2 linked regions of the Homo sapiens genome follow. The protein of the gene in region 2 binds, or shares a complex with, the protein of the main gene of each other region. Each region holds a gene or a part of one and is shown on either strand. Other genes may lie near its edges. A codon is read from its position in the direction of its gene.

The links.
Region 1: the proteins of PTH2 (region 2) and PTH2R are in contact, whole or in part, in a cryo-EM structure (PDB 7F16), measured with the Homo sapiens proteins. Residues at the interface, in NP_848544.1 of Homo sapiens: Ser62 (codon at 5,158), Leu63 (codon at 5,155), Ala64 (codon at 5,152), Leu65 (codon at 5,149), Ala66 (codon at 5,146), Asp67 (codon at 5,143), Asp68 (codon at 5,140), Ala69 (codon at 5,137), Ala70 (codon at 5,134), Phe71 (codon at 5,131), Arg72 (codon at 5,128), Glu73 (codon at 5,125), Arg74 (codon at 5,122), Ala75 (codon at 5,119), Arg76 (codon at 5,116), Leu77 (codon at 5,113), Ala79 (codon at 5,107), Ala80 (codon at 5,104), Leu81 (codon at 5,101), Glu82 (codon at 5,098), Arg83 (codon at 5,095), Arg84 (codon at 5,092), Trp86 (codon at 5,086), Leu87 (codon at 5,083), Tyr90 (codon at 5,074), Met91 (codon at 5,071), Lys93 (codon at 5,065), Leu94 (codon at 5,062), Leu95 (codon at 5,059); in NP_005039.1 of Homo sapiens: Thr31, Ile32, Ile34, Gln37, Ile38, Asp68, Gly69, Leu70, Ile90, Tyr91, Asp92, Phe93, Met112, Lys117, Ala120, Tyr122, Leu126, Gln130, Pro131, Ser134, Lys137, Gln138, Phe141, Glu142, Tyr152, Arg190, Ile194, Lys197, Val201, Ile205.

What each region holds. Positions count from the first base shown.
Region 1 is NC_000002.12:208,444,792-208,461,068, reverse strand, and holds part of PTH2R (parathyroid hormone 2 receptor isoform 1 precursor), read right to left. Parts: coding exon 16,182-16,277; intron 10,321-16,181; coding exon 10,260-10,320; intron 1,175-10,259; coding exon 1,108-1,174; intron 1-1,107. UniProt on the Homo sapiens protein: This is a specific receptor for parathyroid hormone. The activity of this receptor is mediated by G proteins which activate adenylyl cyclase. PTH2R may be responsible for PTH effects in a number of physiological systems.
Region 2 is NC_000019.10:49,417,430-49,432,801, forward strand, and holds PTH2 (tuberoinfundibular peptide of 39 residues preproprotein), read right to left. Parts: upstream 6,013-15,372; 5' UTR 5,911-6,012; coding exon 5,783-5,910; intron 5,214-5,782; coding exon 5,039-5,213; 3' UTR 4,990-5,038; downstream 1-4,989. Other genes in the region: protein KASH5, read left to right, coding at 1-81; GFY (Golgi-associated olfactory signaling regulator precursor), read left to right, coding at 9,002-10,184, 10,517-10,690, 11,190-11,389; SLC17A7 (vesicular glutamate transporter 1), read right to left, coding at 13,090-13,383, 13,586-13,713, 13,909-14,019, 15,090-15,222. UniProt on the Homo sapiens protein: Plays a role as a potent and selective agonist of PTH2R resulting in adenyl cyclase activation and intracellular calcium levels elevation. Induces protein kinase C beta activation, recruitment of beta-arrestin and PTH2R internalization.

The sequences.
Region 1 (16,277 bases), on a different chromosome or scaffold from region 2:
CTTCTAAACTGAAGATTCCTTTTGATCTCTCCTATTTTCTTTATGCATTTTTCCTATGAGGTAAATAAGCTTTTATCTGATTCTTTGGATGAGGTTACAATACCTCAACTACATTAATAGCTGCCCTTCTGACAAAGTAGGTGACACATTGTCCAAAAGAAAACAAGAAGAATATGAAACTGGGAAACAAAGAAAAACATCAAAATTAGTTAATAATCAAGTTGCTACATTGTTTTCTAATTTAACATTTATTATCAAGATAGTAATTATTTTTTTAAAATGCTTGTAATATGTATTACATACATGAACACCAGGAAAACACAAGGTGGTGTAATTTCTTCAACAACCCAAAAGAAGCTGATGCCTTAAAGTCTTCAAAGAAGATCAAGAGTAAACATTTTGATAAGTTTTATTAGATACAAAGAAGTGTGTGGTTTTGTTTTCCTTTGCAACACAGATGCAATGTGCATTGGAAATATTATAGGCAGATAAGGTCCAGTGCAACATGCATTGTGGTCTTTCTCCCTATTATTAGGTTAGTGAAAAAGTAATTGTGTTTTTTGCCATTACTTTCAATTCTATCTAATACCTATTAGATAGAATTATGTGGGATACTTCTTGGTATAAGATGTACTTAACTCCTTGGGGAAAGTATGCCAAATAAAAGATTTAGGGAATACTTTATACATCATATTACCATTCTTCTCTCTCAGTAATTTCTCTGTTTTCCTGCTATTCCACCTTTTCCTCCCTGTCACACTGACCTACTACCAGGTGATCAGAATGTTAAAGTGGTAAAATAATATCGTGGATGAAAAGGAGACATAGGGCCTTCCAACTCCCTAAACATATAAATGCTCATAGATATTTTGAAGTCTCGGAATTGACCCCAAGTGCTAGCTGATTAAAGGAAGGCTTTCTGCATGGATCTCAGTGTCAGTCACAATAAGGGTCTGATCTCTGTCCCAGACTCTCCCAATAGATGTTGCTGTACTTGTCAGTTTCTCAGATCTGTTGTAGAATGCAGTGACAGACACACTTTCTCTGGGTTTTAGCAGCAGGTTAATTTTTCATCCCTTTTTTAACTATACAAACTTTTAAACTTACCCCAATAGCTGCTAAGATCGGTGCTTGATAAATCCACTTGATGTCTCCAGCACTAAGTTCCCAGCACCTGAGACATTGAAAAAAAGCTGTCATGAATAAATTGGCAAAGCAAATGGGTAGTATTAAGTAGAATTTTAAGTTTTACCAAAAACTCCAACCCCACACTTCCAATTAAGAAACAAATAGACAAAGAAATCTTATCTTAAAACACCCAAGCCAGTGGGGGGAAAAAGTGTAACGGGTATTGATTTTCATATTATTAGCTACCCCTTGAAGATGAGTAGAGAATTATAAATATTAGTGAATTACTTTTATTGTGACGAGAGTCAACCATGTTTCCAGAGCCACAAAAGGTAATAGTCTTCTAAATGTCATACAACTGATACTTCACTTTTACTATTATTGGAATGAGCCATGATAATTTAAATTCACTGATAAAGAAAGTTCTCTCTCACAGACATTACAGCAATTCTATTTTACTTCAAAAATTGTAGAATCCTTACAATAATGCAAGTTATTCTTATTCATAGAAATGCAATAGAAAATGAACGCAAACTATTCCTGTCCATAGAAATGAAAATTAGCTATGATGTTCAGTGGAATGTAATTGATTAGTATCCTGTAAATATTGAGTAGTTTTTGCATTTATTTGTAAATTTTTGGTATTTATTGTACTGAATGTAAATGTGGTTCTTTAGATTTCTCCTTGGAACCAATCATAACACCTTAGTAGTTCCCTCATTAACTAATGAGGTTAAAATATCTAGAGAAATGCAAATCAAAACCACAATGAGATATCATCTCACACCAGTTAGAATGGCTACTACTAAAAAGTCAAGAAATAACAGATGCTGGTGAGGTTAGAGAGAAAAGGGAACCCTTATATGCTGTTGGTGGGAGTGTAAATTAGTTCAACCACTGTGGAAAGCAGTATGGCGATTCCTCAAAGAGCTAAAAGAAGAACTACCATTCAACCCAGCAATCCCATTACTGGGCATATTCCCAGAGGAATATAAAGCATTCTACCGTAAAGACACACGTATGCAAATATTCATCGCAGCACTGTTCACAATAGCAAAGAAAGACATGGAATCAATCTCAATCCCCATCAATGACAGACAGAATAAAGAAAACGTGGTACATGTATACCATGGAATATTATGCAACCACAAAAAAAACACAAGATCATGTCTTTTGCAGGAACATGGATGGAGCTGGAGGCTATCATCCTTAGCAAACTAACACAGGAACAGAAAACCAAATACCACGTGTTCTCACTTATAAGTGGAAGCTAAATGATAAGAATTTGTGAAGACAAAGAAGGAAACAACAGACACTGGGGTGTACTTGAGGGGGGAAGGTAGGAGGAGGGAGAGGAGCAGAAAAGATAACTATTGGGTACTGGGCTTAATACTTGGGTGATGTAATATTATGTACAACAAACCTCTGTGACACATGTTTATCTACGGAACAAACTTTCACATGTACCCCCAAACCTAAAATAAAAATTTTTTTAAAAATCTTTGACAGCTGTCCATTTTCTATTTGTATAAGATCCACGACCTTATCCTAATTTTAAAAAGTTTGTTTTTAACAGTACTTAATTTAAAAATTATATAATTTGCCTATTTTTTATATTTGGTGCTTCCCTTCCACCCTAACTTGAGTTTAAGTTCTACATGGGCAGAGATCACTGTTGTTTTTGTGTTCTGATGTATTGCAAGTCCTAGAACAGTATGTAGGTAGTCAATAAATATCTATTGGATTGAACTGACATCAATTGAATTCAAATTAAGTTTTACTCATGCTCACCCAATCTGGTTTGTACTAGTAAAGATCTTACACTGGAATAAATAGCACAGAAATGATAAGAAACTAGTACGACTTGGCACTTTAATATAACACTTGAAACAAAAGACGCACAAATAAAAGTCTTAAGTTTCTTTCTCTTTTCACAAAACCCAGTATTGATTGTGGCAATGGCAAATAATATAAAGAAATTTGTGGGATATAATGATAGTTTTTTAATTCTAGATAATGAACTTATCACGAACTTACTTTTTATTAATGAGCAAGCTATAGATAATAAAATACCATTTTGACTTTTCCTTAAGGGTAAAACATTTTCAGTACACACTAAGAACTACATATTTTTAAGTTTAACTTTTACATAGAGGCAATATGTTCTCATTTTTAAAATCAAACTATATAAAAAGACAGCCATTGAGATGTCTCAGTCCTCCCCATGTTCCTGTCTGCCTCTGCCCCCATCCCTCTCCTTACAGATAACACCTTTTATTACCATATTGTGTATGCTTCCCATGTTTATGCATATGCAAACAAATACAAAGGTTATATTCTTACTTTCCTCTATCATACAAAAATGTCATGTATGCACTATTCTGCAATTTGCTTTTTCCTTTTAAAAGTGTATGTTTTATTTCTTTGCATATCTGTACCAATAGAGCTCAGCAGCTCCACATTCCAGTGGGAGAATATACCACAGCCAAATCAACCAGAACCTACACTAAAGTGTAATTCTGGTCCAGCCAAAATGAAATGCACATATTCAATTGTCTTGAAGTTTGAATAACATGGAAATTTAAGACACAAAAATCTTACACTTGCATATTATTGAACATTTTCTGGCATTGTTTACATGTATCTGTTTTTCACATTATTTAACCAGACAAGAAAGATAAAAGACAATGTTACTGAGTTATGCAGAATCACATTACCCTAAAAAAGCTTTCTACCATAAGGAAGGTGGCATATATCATGTGACTGTAAATTGAACATTGATTCACTTAGCCAAGATCTAAGCTACAAGGCTTTCGGATTCCCTAAATTTTCTTTTCAGTTTTTGACATTTGGTAATATCTTCACAGTCTTCTTTCTTTGCTTTAATGGCATTTCATCATGGTGTCTCCTAACACATTGGGATTCAATTATACAATTCAGGCTCTATAAAATGCTTGCATTTGGAAGTAGGTCAAAACCAGCTACCTCTAAAAACATGAAAAACTTGTCTTTGATGGTTTTCAGTGTCAAAGTTTCAAATTTCCCCTGTGATATAGGAAAGAAAATTGAGATTTCAAACTTTTTAAAGAAAATGTTATTAATGCTTGTTTTTAGTTAATTCTTCAATGTTCCCACTCACACTGTCTTTGTTAACATGTCCCAGAAATTACTCTCTGTTCAAATTTTTTTAATAAACTTTAACCTTCTAGGAAATGCAGTTCTGGATGGTGAAGCATGAGATACAAAGGTCTGACTAGAAAGTGGAACTTCCTACAGCCAGGGTTGAAAACAGGTGTGTTGTTCTGCCCAAGGGATCCAGAGAATTGAATTGGCTGAGCACTACCTTCTCTCCACAACTTACAATCAGTAAGAGTAGAAGAAGCGAAAGAAGCTGACCCCAAAAGCCTGTGCAGATGTTCTAGAAATGTCAGATGGCTTCTTGGTCCTTTGCAGCCCCCACCTTTGCTGCTGGATGGTGAAACAAAAATACAGCAAAGAAGTTATGGGTTTCTTCTCTCATTGGCATCTCTTATCTCCTTCGAATGAGGCAAAGAGAAGATAATCAGATTACCGTGTAAGGTGTTTTTGCTTTTGTAAGTAAAAAGAAAGAGAACAAAATTGCTCACTTTTTAATTTAATTTGCCCAACCTACTTGATTATCTTAGCTGACCTTAGTAAAATAACACTCTTTTTTTTTTTGAGACAGAGTCTCCCTCTGTTGCCCAGGCTGGAGTGCAGTGGCGTGATCTCGGCTCACTGTAGCCTCTGCTTCCCCAGTTCAGGCGATTCTCCTGCCTCAATCTCCCAAGTATTTGGAATTACAGGCACGCACCACCACGCCCAGCTAATTTTTTTTGCATTTTTAGTAGAGACGGAGTTTCACCATGTTGGCCATGCTGGTCTTGAACCCCTGGCCTCAAGGGATCAGCCTGCTTTGGCCTCCCAAAGCACTGGGATTACAGGCATGAGCCACCTTGCCCAGCCCAAATAACACCTAATAGAATTTTAAATCTGAAAGAGACTTCTTTTGTATATCAATAGAGTTTAAGGTATCTTTTAAAACTGGGTCTGACATGCTTATCTCCAAATAGCCAAGATGCAGAGAAAATCAGAGGTTTCACTTTGAAAGGCCAGATTAGAAAACATTGAGTCTCAAATATAAGACATGAATATGAACCCCATTCATCCTTTGAAGATATTTAAAATCTGTTCTCTCCCCAGAGTGTTGTCATATGGCGCTATATAGGTCAGATAACACCCAAGAAAACCCACAAAAACTTTATCTATAGAAAAGCTGAATTTTATGTGAAGTTGAATCAGGCAATTTTGAAATCATCTCAGAGAAGTGGCAACACAGTTTATGTTTACAGGCAAAATTAAATATAAAATGACCCTTCATCCAATTATCCCAGATCTGGGCACTGTAGAATTCAAGATTTTATTCTGATAAGTTAGGAAGAAAGTGGAATATTTTGCAAGGTGGTCACATGATATAACTAATTGAATGAATGAGTCAAAATTCTGCTTCAGTCTAGCGGTAAGCTTTGAGAATGTGTCCTGATGTCTCTGGATCACATTTTACTTATCTCTAATATGGGATGATTGAACCAGAAAATGCCTTAAGTCCTATCATCTCTAAAATTCTGAATCTAGGTCATACAGTTACACATCTCAGAATATGATCATGATAGCATTAATTAGTACCTCTTTACTGATGCAACTTCCCTCCCATGTAAATCAAGTAACAGGTATTGCAAGTTTTCTTTGAGATTTGCAATCTCACTGTGTGTATATAGCAATAATGATGTCAATTAGATAACATCAACCCTCAATTGTTAACAAATTCAAATAGCATAAAGGGATCAAAGTAAGGAAAAATGCAAAGCCAGCAAGTTTTAGAACTGAGGGAAGCTGATGAATGGGGAGCTTTGAAGCAAGTAGGAGGAAGGCTGCACCTAAAGACAATGACTCTGTACAGTTCTAATTTTCAGGAACAGTGAGTGACAGGTTCTTTATAGAGTTTAGGTATTCACAGTATGTGATTTTTTTTTCAGTGCATAGCAGACAAAATAATTCCTGAAGGAAATATCTAGTAACTCAAAACAATATATTGGCTTAAATAAAGTTCCCAGGAGATAACAAAAAGGGAACTGCTGTCACAAAGCGTACACAATCTGTGGATATTAAATTGTTCTCTATTAACATAAAAGAATGCTTGGCATTACTGCATATATAGGTTAAAGCTGCCTCTCTTTAAATTACCTTTTCTTTATCATAAGTGTGTTAATCTGCTTGACGTGTGATAGCAAAATACCACAGGCTGGGTGGCTTAAACAATAGACATTTATTTTCTCAGTCTGGAGACTAGAAGTTCAAGATCAGGGTGCCAGCATGGTCCTGTTCTGGTGAGACCTCTCTTCTTGGCTTGTAAGTAGCCTCCATCTCACTGTGTGCTCACATGACCTCTTCTTTGTGTGCACAGAGAGAGAGGGAGAGCCAGCCTCTCTGGCATCTCTTCTTATAAGGACACTAATCCTTTCATAACAGGGCCCCACTCTCATGACCTCCTTAACCCTAATTAGGTCCTTATAGACCCTATCTCCAAATAGAGTCACATTGGGGGTTAGGGCTTTAACATGTGAATTTTGGGAGACATAATTCAGTCCATAGCAATAAGCTTGACCATGAGAGCAAAGCGCAGTTACCTGAATGCTTTTCTACTTTTTCCTATTCTTTCTCATCATTATTTAAATAGAAATAATACCAAAAAAAAAAGAATTTTTTCATGTTCATTCATCATGTAGCCCCTCAAGAGAAACACAGACAACTGGGGGGCTCTGGCCAAAGTCCATTTGAGCCAACTGAAAGCCTTTACCAGGCAGCCTCCCTGCAGTCAGCCCCGGAGGCACTTGGGTCAGACAGAAGTAAAGGGCGACTTACAAGCTATCAGACACTTATAAGGAATGATAGGAGATGGGCGGTCAAGATTTTTTTCTGTTTATATATAATGATCGGGCCTTAAAAGTTACTGTTTCTTTACGCACAATGAAGGTAACATTTATTGTTTGTCTAAAATTTGGAGTTTACAAAGCCCTTTCATAATGGCCTCTCATCTAATTCTCAGATCTGTCCCCTGCAAACTCACAGCATTAGTCATGGCCAAGAATATTATTCTCATCTCACAGATGGAAGACTGAGGCTGAGAATGACTGCTGCAAGTCATGAATGGAAGAAAAACCACACCTCCTTATAACTCACAACTTGCATTAACTCAAACTTTATCATTGCTTAATAGATATGGAGCAAAGAGAGAAAAAATGGTCAGCCGAATCCAGAAGAATTGATCAGCATGCACTGAAGAGTTATCTACTGTAAAACAGGGAATTTCATTTATGCCCATTTGGAATTCATGGTTTGTTGGAAAAATGAGACAGTTACACTTGCACATTTAGAGAAATAAGATGATAGATAAGAAAGGAATAATTATATAATATGCATACTAAATGCTGCAGGAATTTGATAAGGAAGATTTATATGGTAGAATAGTAGATTTCAAACGCACTAACAAGGTAGAGCATTTGTAGTTATGGTTTTCACCATGAAATGCAGATATATTTAATTTTATCATGTGAATGAGAAAAACATATGCCAGGAGACAACACTGCATGTATACATGCAATACAAATACACAGGCATGAGCTTATATGTCAACAAAAAATGGGAATTGTTGAAAAGTTAATGGTAGGTGATAACCTATTTCTGATTTAGAGAACAGAAAGAACTAGAAGTTTTACCTCTCTGAGGTAAAAAGACAAAAGGCTAGACATAGTGAAGATAAGAGAAAAACTGTCTAGTGTATGCTGGACATTTTCCACTGTGTACTCTTGATTACCAGATGTGTTAAATCAACTGAAGAGTGAGAAGCTATCAGTGATACTGTAGAAAGAATCCCTCTTCAACTCTACTCCTTCACATATAATAAAAATTCCACTTATCTCAATAGAAACACCTCATCCGCCTGTAAGTGTTTTCTGAATGCCTCTAGAGCCTGAATATCTGAGATCAAAGTACTTTTCTACCATTCGTGGCTGTGCAACCTTGAGCACAACTTCTCTGACCTCAGTTTCATAGAGTTAATAATGAGTTTTAACTTACTTAATATTTGCAAAATTATGAAGTACCTGGAATGTGATCAGCACTCAGAAATGCCAGAAAATGTTTTCATTATTACTTTCCTCCAACATCACGTATTATTACCCAATGTTCTGGTAATTATCTTCACAAAATGCAAATTTGCTGTCGTTATCACTGAACGAAGACCAAACATCCTAATCTGGCCTATGAGGGTCTATAAGGCCTCCACCCCTCATCTTTTCTACAGCCTAATTTATAAGCTCTAGCTTCAGCAGAACCAGGGTTCCATCAACTTGACGGGATAAAAATCAAAATATTATAAGCTAGGATTAATGGAAGGATGAGTTTGGCTTTCTAATGAAATAACAATATACAAAAATGCTATTTTTTAATTCTTTAGACATTACTTGTGAATACAAATTAATGAAGCCAAAGAATAATACTTGCTAACAAGTATTTAGCACTTACTATCAGTACATTCCAAACTTTGCATTAGTTATTTTACATACATTATCTCATTTATTCTTACAACAACAACTCTGTAAAGAGTAGTATTCATTTTAACTGCATTTGACAGCTGAGAAAACTGAGGCTCAGAGAGGTTAGGTTGTACATCTGCTGTTCCAGAACCAAGAAGTAGCAGAACAAGCCTATAAGACACCTGTACCTGAGCTCCTTCTCAGCACACTCCCATTTAGTGCCAGGTACTATGCTAAGTGTTCATAATAATGTATTAATGTCATCTATACATTATTATCTCTGCTTTATACATGAGAAACTGATACACAAAGAGATCATGTGTTTTGGGTCCGTTGGTCCCTAACCTAACAAAGCAGTTAAATCAAGATTTGAACTCAGGTCTGTCAAAATATAAAGAAAGGATTCTTTACTATTTAATGCAAATGTACCCTTTACACTTAAATGGTTATTTAAATGTATTAGGTGTACCATGATACATTAAAATGTATCCTTAAAAATGATACATTTTAAATGATTTATAGCATTGTTTTCTTGTACTTTAAAATGACACATTAAATTAGCTCCATGCTACCTGGAAGAACTTAATGACTCACAGTTAGAGATAAATTCCACTTCTAATATGTGTTTATTATTTTAAAATATTTAATTCTGCTATAGAAGATATGGTAACAAATGGGATGCATGAAACCCACAGTTTGCATTAAATATAGATAAGGATGAGTTAGTAGACCACACGTGTGTTAAACCCAGGTACTAAAGACACATGAGGCAACTGAGCTCTAAACATTCATAATATACTAAATATACAAGAGCCATGAACAATCCCTGATACAAAGGAAGTTCTTAATATTTTTGAGGGCATTATCAGCCTCAAAAATATTTTGATTTTGAGGATTCATGGATTGATGGAACTCCTTCCCACATGTCCTTTTCCCAAGGGCCACAAATAAAACCCAGAACTTCTCTGCAGGCTAATTCAGAAGCTACAAATGTAGCCAGTGTACTTGCCTCTCCATCTCTATGAGGAAGTATGTGTCACTGGCCCAGGGCACCAGATTCTGTCTGTAGTTCCCCTTCGTGCTACCTTATCGCAGGTCCTCATAACCACACCATCCTCAGGAAAAGTTGATGTGGCAGAGAGAGAGAGAGAGAGTATGAACACTGCCTATCCTAGGAATCAGGTAGTGTAGTTCTTCAACCTGCTTTCACTAAATCCTAAGTGGATTCTCTTACCCATCTCTTTCCACTTGCTTCTCACATTATATTTTACATTTGTTTCTTAATCTATGGAGGTCAGGCACCTTCATCTAGTCTGCGAGTGTTTCTGCTCTATGACCTCTGGAATAGACAGCTTGCTGGTAATGTGTTGGAAGCTACCATCGCATCAAGGTAATTTTCCTTGTGGCATCCCTAAAAAGCAATGGCATCAAGAACAGAAGCGAGTGTGAATTCTGAGCAGGAAGCCTGAGTCTTGAGAACATCTGAGGTTCTCTCGTTTCCCCTGCCTTTTCACTCACCTCGCATCAGCCAGAGTTGCTCGTGCCACAGCCCATGCTGCAACAAATGCTGCTGGAAACCCTGAAATCAGAAAATGATTCAGAGACTAGATTTATTTTAAGATTAAGGAGGTTTTTTCCTCAAATTCACCATATATAAGAATATACTATTAGCTGTTCAGAGATAAAAATAGACATGAAAATTTCTGATATGTGAACAAGAAAAGTCCACTTAATTTTTAATCATGTCAGTTTGAGAAATTAGCAAGAATATTGATGTTATTTGTTCCTCTAGTCTGAAGATAAAAACTGGCCTAATTTTCATCTGAGGGGTGTAGGGAAAAGCCATATTTGGAGAAGAGTGAAGTTCCTAGGGTTGGAAGTAAGCAATGGTTGGCATTTGACTTTGACTCTTGTCACGCTGACCATCATATGCTCTCAAGGAGTGAAGCAACACAGGGACTCCTGAAAAGCTGAGGGATGCTGTTGTTTTAAAAACTTAGAATTTTTTCATCCTAAAAATGGAAGGCATACTGAGGCAAGTTATAAAAATCAGGAAGTTTTAACCAGTTTAGTCTCTTCTTTTAGTTCACGTTGGCACAAGACAGAAGCATTTTCATGCATTAATAGAAAAGGGTGACCACTATATTTGTCTGATGATTTGAGCGCGAGATATTTGTCCTTCATAAGTGCTAAACACCTTCTGGGCTTGTAACATCAAATCCATTATACCGACTTTCGTTTGCCCCCCAGTAAAAGTTCACTGTCCAGCTCATGTTGTATTTGATTAAACTCTGACATCACACACAAAAAAATCATGAACCATAACTTATATGGAATACTGCAGTAGGGGACTGAAAGACTTAAGAGATGACTTTTCATTATGTGGCCTTTATGAAAGTGGTTTAAATAAAGGATATACAGAAACCATAAGGAAAACATTTTAGAATCTAGGAAGCACCTTACAAAAGGGGAAAACAAAATTTTGGTCTAGCCAAGAACATTTTTTATCAAGCATAACTTTAAATTCTTAACCTTTAAAAAAATTGTAATTTTTTTATATTCTTTCTTAGCAACAAAGTGAACAAAGAAATAGGCTTAGAAAAAGAAAATTTTCAGAAAAAGATGAAAATGATGATATGCACAATAATGTCTTTGGTCTCCTTAGTGACCATCTAACTTAAGTTCAGCCTGCCTATATCACTACTGAATTTTATGATTCTATATTCCAATTTTATTTCTTGTTTCTATAGTATTCTTTCTTTAATCTGCTCAAATTCTGTGTTCTAGGAATTTTTTGTCAAAATAGACCTACCTAATTCTGGTTATTTCTTAGGTTCAGTTTGCATATTCTATCTATCTATCTATCTATCTATTTATCTATCTATCTATCACATTTCTCCATTAATCATTTATTGTCTATTTATGTGTCAAAGATTGTTCTAAATGATATAAATAATGAACAAATAAACAATATCCCTGTTTTCTAAAACTTATATTCTGGTGAAGCAGTCAAAATTAACAAAGCAACTTCAGTTGCTTTTGGTTATGAATTGGTGCTATGAAGAATAAATAAAAGTGATACTATGTAATGGGGAGGGGACAGCTGCTTCTGGTAGGATGATTAGATATAAATCCACCATACAGTCTGGCATAGATTCTACCACATGGCCTGACATAGATCCCTCAGCTGTTCTATCTTGGTTGTCTTCAAAAAGTGTCTGCCTGTCTTTCATCAATTTTCACATCTTATCATTCTTATATCTGCATCTTCTGCTTCCTTTACATTCTTCTGATCAGGTACTTCCTGAATGCTGTTCTATACAGTATTTATTAATGGTGGTTGAGTTGGCATTATGTTTTAGATGATAATTATGTCAAATATCGTACACAGGCATTATGTCTTCATAGAATTGCTTTTCTCACCTTCTTAGAGAATCTTATGCATAAGACTAGCATAGAGACTACCATGGAAGAATGAAGAACAGAAAACTACTTTGGGATCCTTTAAGGATTTTTTATCACGAGTCTTAATATGAATTGTTACATAATTTAGAACACAGAAATAAAGGCAAAAATACTTGACATGTAAATGTTGTTTTAAATTTAAATGTTAAATTAAGTAAATTTAATATAAATTTAAATGTTATCTAGTATGTGCATTTACTGAAAGTTGAGTTATTTTCTTTTTTTTTTTGAGACGGATTCTTGCTCTGTCACCCAGGCTGGAGTGCAGTGGCATGATCCCGGCTCACTGCAAGCTCCGCCTCCCGGGTTCACACCATACTCTTGCCTCAGCCTCCCCAGCAGCTGGGACTGCAGGCGCACGCTGCCACGCCCGGCTAGTAGAGACGGGGTTTCACCATGTTAGCCAGGATTGTCTCGATCTCCTGACCTCATGATCCGCCCACCTCAGCCTCCCAAAGTGGAGTTATTTTCATAAGACACGTCAATACAAAATAAATAAGTTTTGTGAAGACAAAACTTTAAATTAACTTTAAAATAACTACAAATTAAAAATGTTGAATATGATACATATGATCACAACAAGAAAACAAACAAAATAACCTAAAGGGTCAGAGTGCATGCATCTTGTGTGGGAGACTTTAACACCTGTCTCTGTGTTTAAACACTTACTGCCAAGTGGATGATCAAAAAATGTTTGCTGGATTAAGATATTTTACAAAGGGAATAAAATGGGAGTGTGGGACTGTTTCCTGATTATTTTCAGGGAACATATTATGTGAAAATATTCTATGTAAGATGGTATTACTAGGATAGGTGGTTTTATATGATGATATGTACATACTGGTGTTTCATCTGACAGTTGAAAATTAAGGATGGCTACTAATATAGAAGCAAATTACCATATTTAGTAACAATAAAAAAAAGAGATACCTTTTACATACAGAATTAAAATAGAGGAAAATGTGTAGTTGAAATAAAATGGAACTAAGAATAAAGCACCTTATTTATGGGAAAACTGAGACAAGGATGGGGAAAATAATAATGTGCTTGGTTGAATGAAAAGAAACAGTTATCATTAGTATTCACCTTTATTCTCTATGCATCTTGTTTTATAATAATAAAATGTAAAAACAGTTATTTTAAATATTTGTCCTTAATTTAGTAAAGGTCAGATATGACACCTATTCTTCTTCAGATTGTCATTTCCTTTCCTTCCTATTATTTATTTATTTATTTATTTATTTATTTATTTATTTTTCTTTTTGTTTTTTTTTTGAGATGGAGTCTCGCTCTGTCACCCAGGCTAGAATGCAGTGGCGCGATCTCAGCTCACTGCAAGCTCCACCTCCTGGGTTCACGCCATTCTCCTGCTTCAGCCTCCTGAGTAGCTGGGACTACAGGCGCCTGCCAGCACGTCTGGCTAATTTTTTGTATTTTTAGTAGAGGCAGGGATTCACCGTGTTAGCCAGGATGGTCTCAATCTCCTGACCTCATGATCCGCCCGCCTCGGCCTCCCAAAGTCCTGGGATTACAGGCGTGAGCCACTGCGCCCAGCCTCCTTCCAATTTATTTTTAAGAATCATCATAATCAGATTGCACATGGTCGCTCACATCTGTAATCCCAGCACTTTGAGAGGCCGAGGCAGGAGGATTGCTTGAGGCCAGGGGTTCAAGACCAGCCTGGGCAACATAATAAGACCACATCTCTAACAAATAATAAGAAATAAAATAATAAAACATTTAAAAAGAAAAGGATCATCACAATCAATATAAGTGTAACTCCACACATTACTACAATGTGACTAACAGAGTTCTGAGTATTTATCTAGCTGAAAAGAGCTTAAAGTTATAAACATTTGGGTCCAAATGAGTAACAAAGGAATTTAAGCAAGTTCTCTGCTCTAATGAAGCCAGTAAATGGCATCATTGGAAGTAAGTATAAAATTGGACTCGCTCTCAGTTATTCTAGCAAAGTATCCTGCAAGGCATATATAATGTTTTTGATCATTTAGAAAATGAATTTAGAAAAATGAGTCAGATATATAAATAATGTTTTTAAATCAGTCTCTCAGTGTTGAGATAAGAGAAAGACAATCCATAAATCAAACAGATTTTGATATGTACTTCATTCAGTGATAGCTGTGTTTTAGGAGCAGAGAATCTTAAAAGAATACTACTATTATTTTCATTATATATGCCCTAGACTAGAGTATATTTTTAAAGAATGGAAATGCAAAGAGAAAGTCAGAAGACAGACTAGCTGTAGAACCATAATTCCATGAAGAATAGTTATTACTCTTTTGACTTGTGGCTAATTAAGTGAGCAAAATGTGGCATGTAAAATGCGTTCACAGACAGTTTCCATGAAAAGTCAACCGGTTTTCATGTGTGTTCTCAAACTATTTCACGAAATGAAGATTTCTATTGTAGTTGTCATTTCTATGCCTAAACTTTTGTGGGCAAATTAATAAAAGCTGTAAAGGAAGGTAAGAAACCATACTTGCATAGAAGCTCACTAGCACCTTAGCTTTTCTTCACATTCTCTTTTTCATAGAAAGATTTGTGTTTTCTGAGATTCGGTGGGACAAACTCCTAACTGTAAGGAGAGACAGACTGAGTGATAAAGCCCAAATAAAGAGTTAATAAGGAGGCTTGCACCAGGTAGCTATCAAGGCATAAATAAAGAGAAAAAAAGAATTTATTAAAAATGTAAGCAATGATGAAGAAATTTGAAAAATAAAATATAACCCAAATAAACAAATGTCTACATTCATTATTGAATTTTCTATCAACACCTTTTCCAACTCCTAATAATTATGTGGGTTCACAGATATAATTTTGATTTGAAGGAAGGCAAACTACCACAAATTGTCAAGAAAATTTCCAAAGGATCCTAAAAAAGCAAAATATTATCTTTTTTATTTTCAGTAACTGCTAGTCAAAGATAAGAAAGAGCCTTAAAACAGACGAGCTGTCTACAAAAATACAACTTTAATTGTGATGATTATTTCATAATAAATAAGTTTAACAGTAAATTGATTTTCTTTGTCTTCTTAAAGGTTATTAATTAGCTAGCAGAAAGTTCAGCATTCTTTACTTCACATTTCAGTTGTTAAGAAAAAAAGTTAAGGCAAAATAGGCAAAGGCATATTCTTATTTTGGAGAGGAAAAAAACCTTCAAATTTAGTCGTGAGCTACTTAGTGAATTTTTTTCCTATGCTGAGCACCTCCTAATTTAAATATTAAAATAGCAATTGAGATCTGCAACTGTTAATCTCCAACCTCTTCTCAATTTTCACCACATATGAGTTTTAATTTCCCTTAATTTTTAACAAGCAAACAATTTCTTTTCTCCATGTCATGTTGAGTCAGTGTCTAATCCAGTAATCCCCCTTGTACTGCTAAATCATTTTTGAAATGAGAACTGAATACTTTTTTAATTACTTATGCCAGAAGTAATTTGAATAATTTCCTTCTAAAACACATGGTAAGTCCACATAATTAGTTTGTAATTTGTATTTGTTAAATACAGTCAGGATGGTCCTACAAATTCATTTCTGGCATTCTCATCATATGACCTAGAAATACAAACCAAAAATATATCATTATAGCTTAGAAATTCAAAAATAAAAAATTTTAAGATGAAATTATTGATAAAGCAGAACACTGACATTTAGTTGTACATGTGTATGGCTTACAATGAGTTCTCTTATATTTCCTCCAAAGAATCCTCTCAAGAATCTGGCCTAAGAACACTATCCACAAATAACTTTAAAAGTTTGTCACCACTGGGAGAATTATAGACTTGATCTTAATTATTTTTGTCTAAGAATAGAACAATAAAAGGGAGATAAAAAATAAGAATGGGAGGGATTGTTTCAGGAAAATGGCTGTAGGGATGCTAATGATGGGCATGACAGAATGTCATCAAATGCATCATCCAGTTTGAAAGGAACAGAGATATAAATGTCTTACCCCAGCCTATCAAGATGAAGCCCCACAGGTATTTGGTGTCCGAAAAGAAAGCCACAAAGATGAGATTATGCAGGTAGAGACCTTCCACCAGGATCC
Region 2 (15,372 bases):
TCTGTCCTGCTGCTTGGCCCGTCCCCACCTCCCACCTGGCCCCACCTCCAGCTCTGCTACCTCCAGCCCCCTCCAGTGTGAGAGGCTCTACTTGCCCCTCAGAGCAGTGTCTAGCTCAATAAATCCCCTGGCCCTCTCTCCACTGGGATCCCCATTGTTAGTCCACTGTTGCGCAGGCTTACCCTAGATAGAGTACAGGGGATCCACATCCCTGTATTTTTATGTGAAGTCTCCTAGTTTTTTAATGCTGACATTTCTTAACAATAGCAAAACTCCCCCAGTAATGGATTAAGCACTAAGGATTATTCCCTCACAAAACAAGCCTGGCGAGGGCAGCTGTGGGCACACAGCTAAGTCTCGGTTGCCTTGGGGTCAGGGCCTCAGTGATTCTCCTGTCCCCTCCCTCATGCTCAGGAGTTGGCAGTTGTAGCTTCCTACATCACATCTGCGGGAAACGGAAATTTCTTCCTTCCTTTTTATAAAGAGAGGCAGTAGCCTCAGTGTGCAGTGGGTAGATTCAAATCATATTCATAATAAAAGAGAAGCAGTTGCCTGCCCAGAGCCACCAGCAGACTTGTGTTTGTTTCACTAGCCAGACTGTTTGGTGTGACCACCCTTAACTGTAAGGGAGGCTGGGAGACCTGGGAGGTCAAGTACCTCTGCGGGGACTGGGTACCTTGAAAGTGCCTTGCCACACACCTCATTCACACTGAAAAACACTGCAGGCCATGGACCTAACAAACACTCTGGGAGTCACCTACACACCACCACCAGTGTGCAGCTGCTGAGTGGCCTTGGCATGCATGGCCAAGCTGCTTCGAAGGGCTCCAGGATACCTCTTCTCCTTGATTTCTTTCTCCTTCCTACCTTCTCTACAGCTCTGCCTTGCCCTCCCCCGATAGGATCCTGACTCTGTCCTGCCACCCCTCCACGGGTAGCAGCCTAGGTTGACCCAGTCCCAACTGCATCCTAAGTCAATAAAGAACAATCTTCTTGGGCCGGGCACAGAATCACTTGAACCCGGGAGGCGGAGGTTGCAGTGAGTGGAGATTGTGCCACTGCACTCCAGCCTGGGAGACAGAGTGAGACTGTGTCTTAAAAAAAAAAACAAAAAACAAAAAAAAAATTAAAAAAACACATGCGAGACCCCAACCCCTCCCTCTTATTCACATGGACCATCTGCATGGTGCAGCTCTGAGGCATCATTATGCTGTAAGCCCCTTCCCAGCTGGAGTAAAGCTGAGGACACCAAAGGGAAGCAGATGGAGTCTGAGAAGCCTACCCTACTCCCGAAAAGAATACATGATTGGGCACCCACTCTGTGTGGCATGTGGCCCATGGTATTATGCAGGGAATGCCCCAAGCTTTGCCTGCCTCATAGCACCGCCAGCAAGATCCTTACACCATGGCTCCAACGCTCCCTGTAAACAACAAGAGTGGACACCCAGGATGGCTGGCCCCAGGGTGGGAGGGCGCTGAGCTAGGCACTTTGAGATATGTATTTAATCTTCACCTCAACACTAGGAAGTAGATGGTGCTATTATTGCTTTACACATGAAGACACTGAAGCACAGAGAAGTTAAATGACTTGACCTAGATGTCACAGCTAAAAATTATGAGAGTTGGGATCCAAACTCAGTCTGAGTCCAGTTCAGCAAATGAACTCACACGGTGGCTGTCTGCTGTTTGTAGCAGCCTATGAGTTGAACATCCTTCCTTGCCTGGGAAAATCCCAAGATAGGAAGGAGACAGGGCCCCACCTTCAACCAGGAGAGTCAAAGGAGGGTCCCCTTCCCCAGCTCCCAGGGGGTTGGGCTGCTATGACAGGCAGTGTGTGGGGCCCATGCCCATCCCTGTGGCCAAGGAGAAGGATCACGAGATTGGCAGCCCCACCAGACCCTCCAGTCACAGCTGTCGAAGGCAGCAGCAACTCTACAGAAAAAGGAGGACAGGGATGAGGACCAGGCACACACCAGAGTTGTCCTCTAGAGTGCAAATGGTAAACAGGAAAAGCACCAGGGTGCCATTTATTCATTCAACAAATATGTGTTCATCATCTCTTTGCAACAGCTAGACCTTAGAAGATGAAGCTGTAGAGGAAAGCAGGACCTCCAACATCAAGCTGAGGAGCTTAGATTTTCTCCTGAGAATGATGGGGCTTTGGGAGGTTTTATTGCTTGTTTGTCTTTGGTTTTTTACATTTTAATTGAGGCGCAGCTTACATACAGATAGGCAGACAAATCTTAAGTATCAGCTGGATAAACTTTTGTGTACGTATATACCCATGAAAATCACAGCCCAGGTCAAGAGAGTAGACAGTTTCAGCACCCCAGATGCTTCCTTGGAGAGTTTTGAGCAAGGGAGGGACAGAATCGGACCTATTTAAAGACAGATGGAGGTAGCTGCAGGTCCTGTGAGAGTCCAGAAAAGGCAACTGATTCGGCTTGGAGGTTACAGGATTCTTTCCAGACAAGTGACATTTGTGTTTAGTCTTGAAAGATGGGTAAGGTTTGGGTTACAGTCAGCAGGGGCCCAGGGAGGGTGTCATAGAGGTGGGAAAGAGACCAGTGTGTCTGGAGAGCCATAGGCGGCATCCTGTTGCTGGATTTAAAAAAAAAATTTTTTTTTAAAGATTTGGAGCCTGGGAGGGATTGAAGGCTACAGAGTGGTGGGAAATAAGAGAGGTAGGCAAGAGCCCATGAAGGGATTTGAACACCAGCTTGAACTTTATTCCCTAGTGCCGGTAAAAGGGTTGTGAGCAAGGGAAGGCAGAACTCTGGGTAGGAAGAAGAGCATTCAGGGCCTGTGGAGGAGATGAATGAATGAAGGGGATGAGAATGGAGGCCAGCAGGTGGGGAGGAGTCTGGGGCTGTGGTCCAGGTTGGAGAGAATGAGGCCTGAGGCAGGGCATGTGGGTGGAGAGGAGGGAAGAGCAGAGCCAGGGCAGGGTGGGAGGGACCGGGCTGGAGACTGACAAGCTGTGAAGGATGGCGAAAGGGGCAGGACAAGGACAACCCCTGGGACCTGGCCCAGTGACTAGTAGACAGTGGAGCCATTCCCAAGATAGGGAACCCATGATAAGGAGTGAGTTCAGAGAAAGACTCAGTTCATTTAGGGGCTGGAGTCCTGAGCCCTGAGCTCCCAGGCTGGAGAAGGGGGTCTGGGTGTTGTCAGCTGTGGGTGGTGGCAGAAGCTGTGGGGACTGCTGAATTTGCTTGAGAGTAGAGTGGGGAGGGAGGAGGCTCCAGACACCATTTTGAGCAAAACCTCAAATGTTCTGATACGGATCGGGAAGAAAATAGAGTGTGGGAAGAGACCAGGCCAGTACCCAGCTACCAGGCCCGCGGGGAAACAGGAGGAGGCTCTTCATAGGGTCTTTGTGAGGTTAAAAGAGTTAATGCAAGCACAGCACTTAGAAGAGTGCCTGCTATATAGCAACTGCTCATTCACATTTTCATTCCATTTCTCCATGAGAGTGGCGGAAAAGTCTAGACTTTTGAAATTGCACATACCCGGATTCCAGTTATTCTTTTGTCGCTTAGTAGCTCTAACAACTTAGGAAAATTCCTCCTGACTTTCAGTCTTATTTGTAAAATTAGGCCAACTCCAGATAGTTTTGAGGAATGCAGTCTTTCCTTTGTTATTCGGAAGGACAGAGGAAACAGTCCCGCCCCCACAGTCCAAGGGCCAATTAGGGCTCGGTCCGCCTCCCGAAAATGCAAATTTTGGGACGCCTTGCCAAACACGCGCGGCGGCCCCGCTTCCCGCGCAGCAGACGCGGCCGGCTCCACTCTCTTCTTTAAACCAATGAGAGCGCGGTCCGCACGAACGGCGCCCCAGGCGCGCTGATCTAGCCCTCTGCGGACCACCGGGTTGCCATGGTTACCACGAGGGGCGGAGCTGAAGGGCAGGCTGGACCTCCGGGGAGAGAGACAGATTTCGATTGGCTCTTTTCTCGCTTCACCTGCAGCCCAGGTATCTTCCCGCCCTTTCCCTGTCCTTTTTGGAGCCTGACGCCTGCTCCTTTCTCTTCTCCTGCCCCAGCCTGGCGCCCCGAAGGTCTCTAGAGAAGGAGACCCGAAGTCAGAAAACCCTGAAAAAAATTGCTGGACGCTGCTGTGAGAAGAGGAAACCCTTTTCAAATAAAAGCGTTTTGCTACGTAACGGGCGCTGTACTGAAGTCTTATGAAGTATATCTTATTGGATCCTCGTAACAGATGAAGAAAAGGAGACACAGAGACTGACGTCAAGAAGGCTTTCTCAGTACTACGCAGCTAGATTTGGAGGACCCTGGGTTTGGATGCTAGGGCTGCCTCACACCAGAGCCCGCGATCTTTCCACTGTGCCTGGGGAGAAGTCTGGAAGTGATGGGAGGGAGGAACAGCGAAATTCAAAGATGAGAGCTGATGGAGAGACAGATAGAAACCTAACGGAGGAAAGAAAAGGAAGATATGAAGGAGTCAGGCAGAGGAAAAAGGAAAAAAGAAAGTGATGGAGAAGGGAAGGAAGAGTTTCAGAGGCAGAAGGAGAATAGAGAGAGGAGGCAGAGATTCCCAGAAGACCAGAAAGCCAAAAGGGTGAAAGGGGAGATAACCACAAGGACCCAGGGAGACGGGGACACATACCCAGAGAGGAAAGAGACCCAGAGAAAGGGACAGAGACGGAGGAGGACAGAGACCTTGGAGATTACAGAGAACCAGAGAGAAGGGGACAGAGATGGGGGTAGGGAGGGACAGGGGCCCAGAATGAAAGGAGGGGGCGGGGGGGTGGGGGCGATAGGGAAGCAGAGATCCAGAAATAGGAAAGAAGCCAGCTTCCTGGACAAAGACAGGCAGAGAGAAACGGAATTGAGGAAAGAAAATAGAGTGGGGACTGAGGAGAGAGATGCCAGAGTGGCCGACACAGAGTCCTGTCTCTTTTCTACCCCCCATTTCAAGCCCCGCGCCCCCAACCCAACGCACACGCAGGTCGCGCAGGAACTAGGCGCAGTCCGGAGCGCAGGGCATGGTCTTTATTAAGATGGGGACGGGCAGCGCGCTCAGGGCGCATCCAACACCAGCAGCTTGTGCATGTACGAGTTCAGCCAGTGGCGGCGCTCGAGGGCGGCCAGCAACCGCGCGCGCTCCCGGAAGGCCGCGTCGTCCGCCAGCGCCAGGCTCCTCCGCGGCCTGGGGGTGGCGGGATCCGCCCAGGCCCGTCCTGGGGGGCGGAGGCTGTGGAGAGACGCGGTGACCGCGCGTCCAGACTCGCTCTTGCCGCCGCCTGTCCTCCCCGCGGTCTAACTCGAAGCCCCGTTACTGCCCAGTCCGTGGAGTGGCTCGGTCCGGCTCCCCCTGTCTCTCTCGTTCTCTGTGTGGGTCTCTGTCTCTCTGCTCACCAGGTTCGAAACTCCCCAGGTACTGAGACCGAGTCTGATGCACTTGTCCGCCCACAGCGCTCAGCGCATGGCCAGGCGCACACCAAGAACCCAATAAACGTTGCTCAAAGAATGAATCCGTTTCTGCAACGACTCCTTTCGAGCCTCTCCACGCCTTTCTCGGGATCTATCTTTCTGTGTCTCTTTCCCTTGCTGATTTTCTGTCCATTTCCCGCACCACCACTACCACCAAACCCTCCTCCCGCCTTCCCCCACCCCTAGTCTCTGTCTTCTCGCTGGGTCTCGGTCGCCCTCTCTTTGGGCTTCTGTTCCGCTTTCTGGATCTTCCGTCCCCTTTCTCTTTGGTTCTCTTCCCACTTCTCCAAGTTCCCACCCCTCCCTGGGAGTTCTGGGACTGGCACCTACCTGAGGACCCCGACCGGGGGCAGGGCGACTCCCGAGGCAGTGCGGACGCCCCAGGGCACCACCAGCAGCAGCAGCAGCAGCAGCAGCAGCCGAACCCGAGGGCTCCTGGACACCTGGCGGGTCTCCATCACCTGTGGAGAACCAGAAAGGGGCTCAGTAGGGCTGCATCCCGGCCCAGAACCCCGGGCCCCACCATGCATCCACCCCCAGCTTCCCGCACAGTCCCCTACCGTGCAGTGGGCTGGGGCAGCGATGGTGGCAGCCCCCTTATATCGCCTCCGCAGCCCCCGCACCGGGCAGTGACGCAGGCCGGGGGGCCGGGGACGCGGGGTCACCCCCTCCCCAGGCTCATTAGGAGCCGCCAGCGGTAATGAGGAGCCGGGGGTGGGGGACCTGCCGCTGCCTTGGCCGCCACCAACTAATTGGGACCAGAAGCTGGACCTGAGACGAGGGAGGGGGAGAGACAGACAGACAGAGAGGTGGACACAGGGGGTGTGTCAGAGGGCTAAAAATAGAGACTGGCGGAAGGACCGTCAGAGGAACAGAGACACAAAGAGAAGGACAAAGACAGAGTGGCCGAGGAAGAAATAGAGAGAAAGAATGGGAACGACAGAAAAAGAAAGGAAAAGGAAGAAAACAAGAAAAGAGAGCGAAGGAGATGGAAACGAACAGTCAGATGGAGATGGAGGAGGGAAAGAAAAGGCTCTCAGAAAGACAGACGGAAATGGAAGGACGTCCTGGTCTGGAAGGAGCTGCCCAGAGATAAATACAGCAGCGAGAGGCCCAGAAAGATCGAGGGTGAGGTAGGGAGGGGGGAAAGGCAAGAAATGGCAAAGGGTACGTGTGGCAGGGGTGTGAGGACAGGAAAAGTGACAGACCACATCAGAAAAACCTCAGAGAGTGAGAAGAGGGGAAAACAGACAGGGCTCCTGAGCTGCCCTAAGGATGTGTCTAAGCCCTTATCTGGGAGGAGTTTGGGGGTGCTGTGAAGATTAAAGCCCAGTCCTCCTCACACTGACTCTTTTTGTGTGTGTGTGTTTGTCTGTTTGAGATGGAGTCTTGCTCTTGTTGCCCAGGCTGGAGTGCAATGGCACTATCTCGGCTCACTGCAACCTCCACCTCCCAGGTTCAAGCCATTGTCCTGCCTCAGCCTCCCGAGTAGCTGGGATTACAGGTGCCCACCATCACGCCCAGCTAATTTTTGTATTTTTAGTAGAGATAGGGTTTCGCCAAACTGTTGGCCAGGCTGGTCTTGAACTCCTGACCTTGTGATCTGCCCTCCTTGGCCTCCCAGAGTGTTGGGATTACAGGCGTGAGCCAGCACACCCAGTCCACACTGACTCTTAAGAGGGGCCTCAGCCGGGTGCTGTGGCTCATGCCTGTAATCCCAGCACTTTGGAAGGCCGTGGTGGGTGGATCACTTGAGGTCAGGAGTTCGAGACCAGACTGGCCAACATGGCGAAACTCCTTCTCTACAAAAATACATAAATTAGGTGTGGTGTAATCCCAGCTACTTGGGAGGCTGAGGCAGGAAAATCGCTTGAACCTGGGAGAGGGAGGTTGCAGTGAGCTGAGATCGCACCACTGCACTCCAGCCTGGGCAACAGAGTGAGACTCTGTCTCAAAAAAAAAAAAAAATTTAAAAAGAGGGGCCTTTATACACAGTGAGGAGAAGATGGGCAAAACTTGGAAGTCCTACAGAGCAGTAGAAACTTGGGATGTGGGAACTTGGGCTCCTAGTTTCCTAGGAAGGTGGTGGCAGAAGCTTGGACTCCTGAGTCTAAGAGTGGATGGGACAGGGACCCAGATTCCTATGTTCTGGGGAAGGAGGAGGCTGGGGACTTGGATTCCTGAATCTGAGGAAGGAAGGAGCTAGAGGACTGGAGTTCTGAGTCTGGGGGGAGGGAGCTGGGGGATACAACTTAGGGGACTTGAAATAGGAAGGTACCAGGGAACTAGACCCCTGGGTTTTCAGGTAGGAGAGGGTAGAGGGCCAGGACCACTGGTTTCAAAAAAATAATTTGGGCCACATCTCCACTAGATCAATCCAGTTTCTAACTCCCTTCCCCACCCCAGAGAAAATGTCCTTTACTTCTGTCCCTTTAAGAGTCTAAGTCTGTCGCTAGGCTCCCAGGATCCCCTGGGAGGGGGTGAGGTGCGTCACCTGTGTGCCCCTGAGACCCTACCTCCCACCGCCCTGCCCAGATCTGTTCTGCAACATTCACCGTTCTCTGCATCCAGCTCTGCTTATCTGCTGTTACCTTGGACACCAGAGCAGGTAAGAGACCCCAGGACCTCAAGTAAGCCTGTCCCATCGATGTGTCGGCCGCCTCCACCTCCACCTGAACACAGACCTATGCTTCTCTGCCCAGACTGGCCCCGGAGATGCCGAAATCCTAGCTCCATCTTCAATAACAGACTTGAGAGTCCTGCCCCAAAGCTCTCTTCTTCAAGTCCCTACCCCTCTACTCTGCAGAGCCCAGACCCCAGACCCTATTTCTGGAGGACTCAGAGCTCCCAATTCCTTTCTAACTCAGGAACCAAGAGCTCAAGGCCTCTTATCTCCTTTCACCCCTGCAATCCAGCCCCCAAACCTTGCTCCCTCAAAATTCTAGGCACCTGAACTTCCAGCCTTCTCCTCTCTAAAGAACCAGGAGCCAGGAACCTCAGCCCCCTCACCCTGCAAGACGCAGGAGTCTGAACCCCCAGCAACCTTCTTAACCCAGAGCCCAAATGTCTCCCTCCTCCCTCAAATCCATGAGTCCAGCCCTCAGCCGTTAGGAGCCTCCTGTAGTGTAAACAACTGTTGAGTCAAGGTGTCCCGGGGGACCTCGGAGAGGAAGGAGATCCCACGTCCCCTCGAAGCCCTGACACTCCCTAAAGTCGAAGTCGAGGAGATCTGAGGCCTGGAGAAGTGTCGTTCTTTCCCAATTTTTCTAGGACCCCTCGCTGAAACAGATAAGGAAATTAACTACGACTCCCAAGTAGCCCCGCGCCTCAGTCTCTCTTGGCTACCTGGGCCATCGCCCCACAAGCCTCCAAGGGACTTGCGATTGGGTTCTCTTCCCATCCCTGGCGCCAAGCTGGGCCCCGGACAGACGTGGTCCACCTGTGTTCCAGTGGGCGTGGCCTCCGGGAGTGGGCGGGGCTCCTGGGAGCCTTCGGCCTTAACCCCTTCCTTCCCGCTCTCCCCCGCAGCTATAGGTATCTGCCAGAGCTATGAAATCATTCAGCCGGATCCTCTTCCTCGTCTTCCTCCTCGCCGGCCTGAGGTCCAAGGCCGCTCCCTCAGCCCCTCTGCCTTTGGGCTGTGGCTTTCCGGACATGGCCCACCCCTCTGAGACTTCCCCTCTGAAGGGTGCTTCTGAAAATTCCAAACGAGATCGCCTTAACCCAGAATTTCCTGGGACTCCTTACCCTGAGCCTTCCAAGCTACCTCATACGGTTTCCCTGGAAACCTTCCCACTTGACTTCACTGAGCCCCTCAACCCTGACCTCCGAGAAACCCCGCACCCAGAGTCTCCTGAGACCCCCAAAGCTGACTCACTCACAACCTCAATATCAGAATCCCTGGACATGCCCAAAACTAACCTCTCCAAAATGGCACACCCAGAGTCTTCTGAGACCCCCACACCTGGCCCAACTGAAATGCCACACCCAGGATCCCCTGAGACCCCCAAACCTAACTTCTCCAAAACTTCACGCCCAGAATTTCCTGAGACCCCAAACACTGACCTTATGCAAACTACACCCCAAGAATCCCCAGAGATTCTGCAGCTTAATGCCACTGAAGTCTCACAGGCAGAACTCCCCGAGACCTCAAACACTAACCCTACCAAGACCCCTGACCCCAAATCCCCAGAAAAGCATGACCTCAACTCCACTGAGACCCCAAACTCTGAATTTCTCCAAGCTCTCCATCCTGACCCTTCTAAAACCCCCCACCCAGAATCCCATGTGACCCACAATCCCAGCCCCACCGAAATTTCCCAAACAGAATTCCCCACAACCTACTACCAAAATGCAACAGATGTACCCAGGACCTCCGACCCTCAAATCTCCACTAGTCTCTACCCAGAAACACCTGTGCCCTTCAAGGATGACGCCACTGCTCTAAATGAGCTGTCCCTGAATCCCAAACCAGGAACACCTGCAGCCATCCAGCCCGACTCCCCAAAATTGCCCACTTCAGATTCTCCAGGAATGGTTGAGCTGAAGGCCCCCCAGAACTCTGGCCCTAAGGAGTCCAACGTCCCTCCTCCCTCAGCCCGGATTGCAGGTCCCCCTGCTCTTCCAGGGCGCCCCAGTCAGTTGGCCCCTGCCACTCTGCGGGCACCCCAGAGGCACAGCCGAGGTGAGGGAGTCAACACCATCATCGTGGTGGAGCGAGTGAAGGAGACCGGTGAGGGGCAGGAGCCGGACTCCTGAGTCTGAGGGAGGGGCTGGGGGCCTGGACTCCTGGGTCCGAGGGAGGAGGGGCTGGGGGCCTGGACTCCTGGGTGCGAGGGAGGAGGGGCTGGGGGCCTGGACTCCTGGGTCCGAGGGAGGAGGGGCTGGGGGCCTGGACTCCTGGGTGCGAGGGAGGACCGGCTGGGGTCTGGACTCCTGGGTCTGAGGGAGAAGGGTTTGGGAACAGGAATTCCTGGATCTGAGGGAGGAGGGGCTAGGAGCTTGGACCCCTGGGTCTGAGAGAGGAGGGGGTTAGGAGCTTAGATTGCTGGTATCCCCCTTCAGGCGTGACTCTGGTGGGGCGACCACGTGGCGCAGCAGGCGGGGCCCTCTGCCTGTTCTTCGCGGGGACCGCGCTGCTGATCGGCATCTTTGTGCTGCTGTGGTGTCTTTACCGCCGGGCAGCTAGACAGCGGCCCTTCGCACATCACCGGCTTCCGGACGACGGAGATGAACCGGGTGAGCGCCCTGCCCCTTGAATGCCTGCACTTTTCCATAACCTGGTCTCTCCCGGCACTACAGGGCGCCAGCCAAAAAAGCACAGGTCCCCCACCCAAGGTCAATGAAAGCCCTGGCTCTTCCATGGCAACGTCCAGCCCCCTAAATGTCTGCAATTTCACCCAAGAGTCCAGTGCCGCTCCCAATGCGGTTGGAAACGGCTTCAGGCCCAGAGCCGGCCGTCCCCGCCAGCCCCGCCCCTGCCCCTCCAGGTACGCGGCCCGGAGCCCTGTACTTCCCGCCCTCCACTGCAGGCCCCGCCGCTGCTGATCGGACGCCACGCCTCCTGGTTTCTGCAGCGGCCCCCACCCTTTTTATTGAAAACTCAGTTCAAATGCAGAATCGGAATCCTCTCTCCGGCCTCCTGATCGGTCGGCCGCACAAAAGCGGCCCTGGAGATGATCTGGAAGGGGGCCTGGAGGGTCAGCCCAGAGATGACCACGCCCCTTTGCACCCACAGTTCTGCATTTGGACGCCCCGAAAGACCCCTACGACCTCTACTTTTATGCTCCGGATACCTGGGTCCCTTCCCACATCGCCACCAAGCAGCCCCCGCCCACACCTCCTCTGCCACCAAAGCTGCCCCCGCCGCCCCGCGGGGGTCGCCCGCAGCGTCTGGAGGCCCTGTCCCCCGCCACGCTCCCCAACAACTTCGTGTGAGCCCCACCGAGTTCTGCCGGACCTGCACATCCCCACAGTGAAGGAAAACCCTGCGCTTCTGGTATGCTTAGCTAGAGTAGTGCCCCGGATAAAGGGTCTAATATACAGAGATGCTTGCGCTGTGATCAGAGAACAAGGTCTGAGACCGAATAAATATCATGTTCCCATGGCTAGACCCCTCCTCTGGCCTGAGCCCTGGGGTGGGAGGGGCTGGAGTCTGAGACCGCTGAAACTTGGGGAGGAGAGGCTGGGGTCTGGACCCCTGGGTCTGAGGGAGGAGGGGCTGGGGCCTGGACTCCTGGTCTGAGGGAGGAGGGACGGGGGTCTGGACTCCTGGGTCTGAGGGAGGAGGGGCTGGGGCCTGGACTCCTGGGTCCGGGAGAGGAGGGGCTGGGGCCTGGACTCCTGGGTCCGGGAGAGGAGGGGCTGGGGGCCTGAAACCCTGGGTCTGAGGGAGGAGGGGCTGGGGCCTGGATCCCTGGAACTGAGGAAGGAGGAGCTAGGGGCCTGAACTCCTCGGTCTGAGGGAGGACGGGGCTGGGGACCAGGATGCCTGTGACCTCCACAGCCAAGAACAACTGAGCCTATACACCAAAGCTTTTATTGGGAGTGGGGCAGGGCAGGATTTACAGTCACAGAGACAGAGACACAAAGACACAACCCTGCACTGGGAAAAAACACCCCTGGCTCCTGCCCCATTCCCTTTCATGGGATTCTGTGACTTCTCTATAGGTTCCCCAAATTCTAAGCTGAAAGAGGGGTGTCTGAGAGGGGAAGGATCCCAGATTTTGAGTCATTAAGCCCCTGAGGGACACAACAAATGGCCACTGAGAAACAGGGTAGTTCGAAACCACCCAGGAGAATAAAGTGCGAGGAATTGGGGAGGGGGCATCATGAAACCACCATGGGGGAGTTCAATGGTGGTAGCTTCAAACCTTTGAGTTCATGGACTGGAGCAGCCACTATTTAGACCTGAAAACCATGTCAGAAAAAGTGCACGGGGGTAGAGAGGCATATTGTTAAAATTGCGATTTTGGTTGTTTCCCCAGACATTATGCTAAGCTAGGGAGAAGAGGGTCTTGAGAAATTTGGTGCTTTCGCAGAATCTGCTGGTAGGGGAGATGTGAAGTGGGCACGGAATCGGGGACTTGAAACCGCCATTTTCCATCAGAAACGCTGGTGAGAATCAATCCCTGGAATGGCGGGGACGAGTAATTGGTTAAACCAATCTGGAAGATGCAGAACAGAGTTGGGAGAGATTTGAAACTTCTAGAGGAGGACCTTGAATTTTTCTGAAAGGAGATGGGAGCTGAGTGATCTCAAAGGTTAGCCTGAGAGTCCCTGGAGATAAAGGAAAGCGGGGGGTGTGGGTGCCTCAAAACCACAAGAGAGAGTAAGAGGTCGAACTGTCCATTCAAATAAAGCCCTGAAAGGAGAGATTTGAAACCACTGAGGCAGAACGGGTGGAGAGGGAACCTTTAGGGGAATTTGGGTATCCTTGAAACTGTCAGTCTGCAGCTTCACTACCCCTGAGAGGCAATTGGGAAGGAAAGAGGATTTGACAGCACTGGGAACAAGGGAGAGTGCTTCTTAGGCCTGAGGCAGGACAGAGAGGAGCAGGGTTCCTTGACACTGTCACTCAGGCCAGAGATGAGTGGAATGGAGGTCCTGGAAACTGCCATTCAGTGGGAGGCACATGGTCAGTAGTCCCGGACAGGGGGTGGGGGCCTGGGGGGCTGAAATGTGCTGTGTGTGGCCCCATAGGAGGGCGGGGGTGCAGGGGGTGCCCCCGGGGGCTCAGCCTCATCCTCCATTTCGCTGTCGTCACTGCCAGCCAGCTGGTCATGGCCAACGAAGCCACACTTCTCCTCGCTCATCTCCTCAGGCTCTGCCCACGGCTGCTTCTCTCCAGAAGCAAAGACCCCGTAGAAGATGACACCTCCATAGTGCACCAGGGAGGCAATTAGGAACACGTACTGCCACTCCTCCCGAGTCTGCAGGGGACAATAGGGCTGAGGTCAAATGGGAGGACAGAGAAACAGAGGCGGAGAGAGGGGGAGGCCTAGAGGAAGGGAGGCAGAGACCCAGGGAGGCTGAAAAGGCAGGGATGGCACCCCAGAGACAGTGCCACCACGTGGTCAGTTAGGTACGAAGCACACACTTGGAGGCAGACTGAGTCAGGACTGCGGCACCCACCTTGTGCTTAGTCATGGCCCCCACGATGATGGGGCACACCATGCCCGACAGTGTGCCCACGCCGTTGGAGATGCCCATGAGGATGCTGGCGTAGCGCGGGGCTATGTCCAGGTGGTTCACGTTGAACCCTGGCGGAGAGACAAGTCGGAAGGCGTCACACCGGAATCTCACTCGAGTGATTCCCACTGGGACGTTCTCAACCCTCTCCCCTCCCCGCCACTCATGTTCCACCTTTTGTGAGGCTGAGAGGCCCCGTTCCTGAGCCAGGAAGTTCCCTACAGAGCTGACCAGAGTCCCCCAAGCTGCGGATCCGCGGTTCTCACCAGAGATGGCGAAGCCGCTGAAGCCCACGGCTAGGACCAGGAAGGAGATGGCCACGCCCTTGGAGTGCGAGTAGCCGACCACCAACAGCAGCGTGGCTTCCATGCCGAAGCCTACGGGGGCGGGGGGGGCCCGCGTCTCCTGAGTGTCGGCCGGAGCAAGGCGCAGGCTGCCCCACACCGCCCTTCCAGACCTGCTCCAGCCCCAAACCGCGTCTATCCACCCCAGTCTGGCCACCTCCACGCCCAGGCCTCTTCGCGCCCTCCACGCCACCCGCACCCACCCTAACCAGGCCCCTACTTCTCCAAGACCCAGCCCTGACCACGCCCACCAGCTCCATCGCCCCTCCCGTAGCTCCACCCCTTGACTAGGCCACTCCCCGAACACGCAGGATCCCTGCTGTGCACGCTCACACCTTCCCCTCAATCCCCACTCATGAGTTTTTGGTTTTTTTTTTTTTTAATTTTTGATTTTTTATTTTTTTTAAGAGACAAAGTCTCACGACGTTGCCCAGGCTGGTCTCAAACTCCTGAGCTCAAGTGATCCACCGGCCTTCGCCTCCGAAAGTGCTGGGATAACAGGGGTTAGCCACCATGCCCTGCCTGTTTTTTAATTTTTAATTGTAATTTTAATTTTTCTAGAAACAAAGTCTCGCTCTGTCGCCCAGGCTGGAGTGCTGCGGCGCGATCATAGCTCACTGCGGCCTCGCAGTTCTGGGCTCCAGCGATCCTCCCTTCTCAGCCTCCCAAGTAGATGGGACCACAGGCGCGCGCCACCACGCCTAGCAAATCTCACTTGTTAGACAGCAGGCCCCCTAGGACCCTGTCTCTCCAGGTGCCTTGCTCTTAGCGCCTCTTCATCACCTAGTTCATGTCCTACCACACCCAACTTTGTGCAGGTCTTGTCCCTCCAGGCCCAACTCGGTCTTCTCTCTGCTCCACCCGGGAAGTCTCGCCCACCCTGCCCTTCCGCGCGGTGGCCCCTTGGACGGCCGCGTGACAGTCCCTTTCATCCAGGCCTGCCCTGCCCCGGCTCCACCCTGTTGGCCACGGCCCTTTGCATAGAAAGGGACTCCTGGGGCAGGCTGGATGGTTTCCGCCTGTAACCACTCCCCATCACCTCTCAATCCGGCTCTGCTCCACCCAGGCTGTCCTAGAGCCGGCCCAGGCCCCGCCCCACTCACCTCCGCAGTTCATCAACTTGCGCACGTTGGTGGTGGACATGATGCGGCGGCTCCGCAGGAAGTCCGCGATCTGGCCGCCGATGGGCACGATGATGGTCATGACCAGGTGGGGCAGCGCGGACACCAGGCCTACCTGCGGGAACAGGTGTACAGGGACACTAGGGTTCGGGGCCGCCGGCTCGGCGTCTCTGCCCGGTCCGTGCACCACCGGCTCCTCCCTGCCTCGGGATCGCCGCCAGTTCCCTCCCGCCGACCCCTCCGCGCCCCCCTGCCCTCTCCTCCT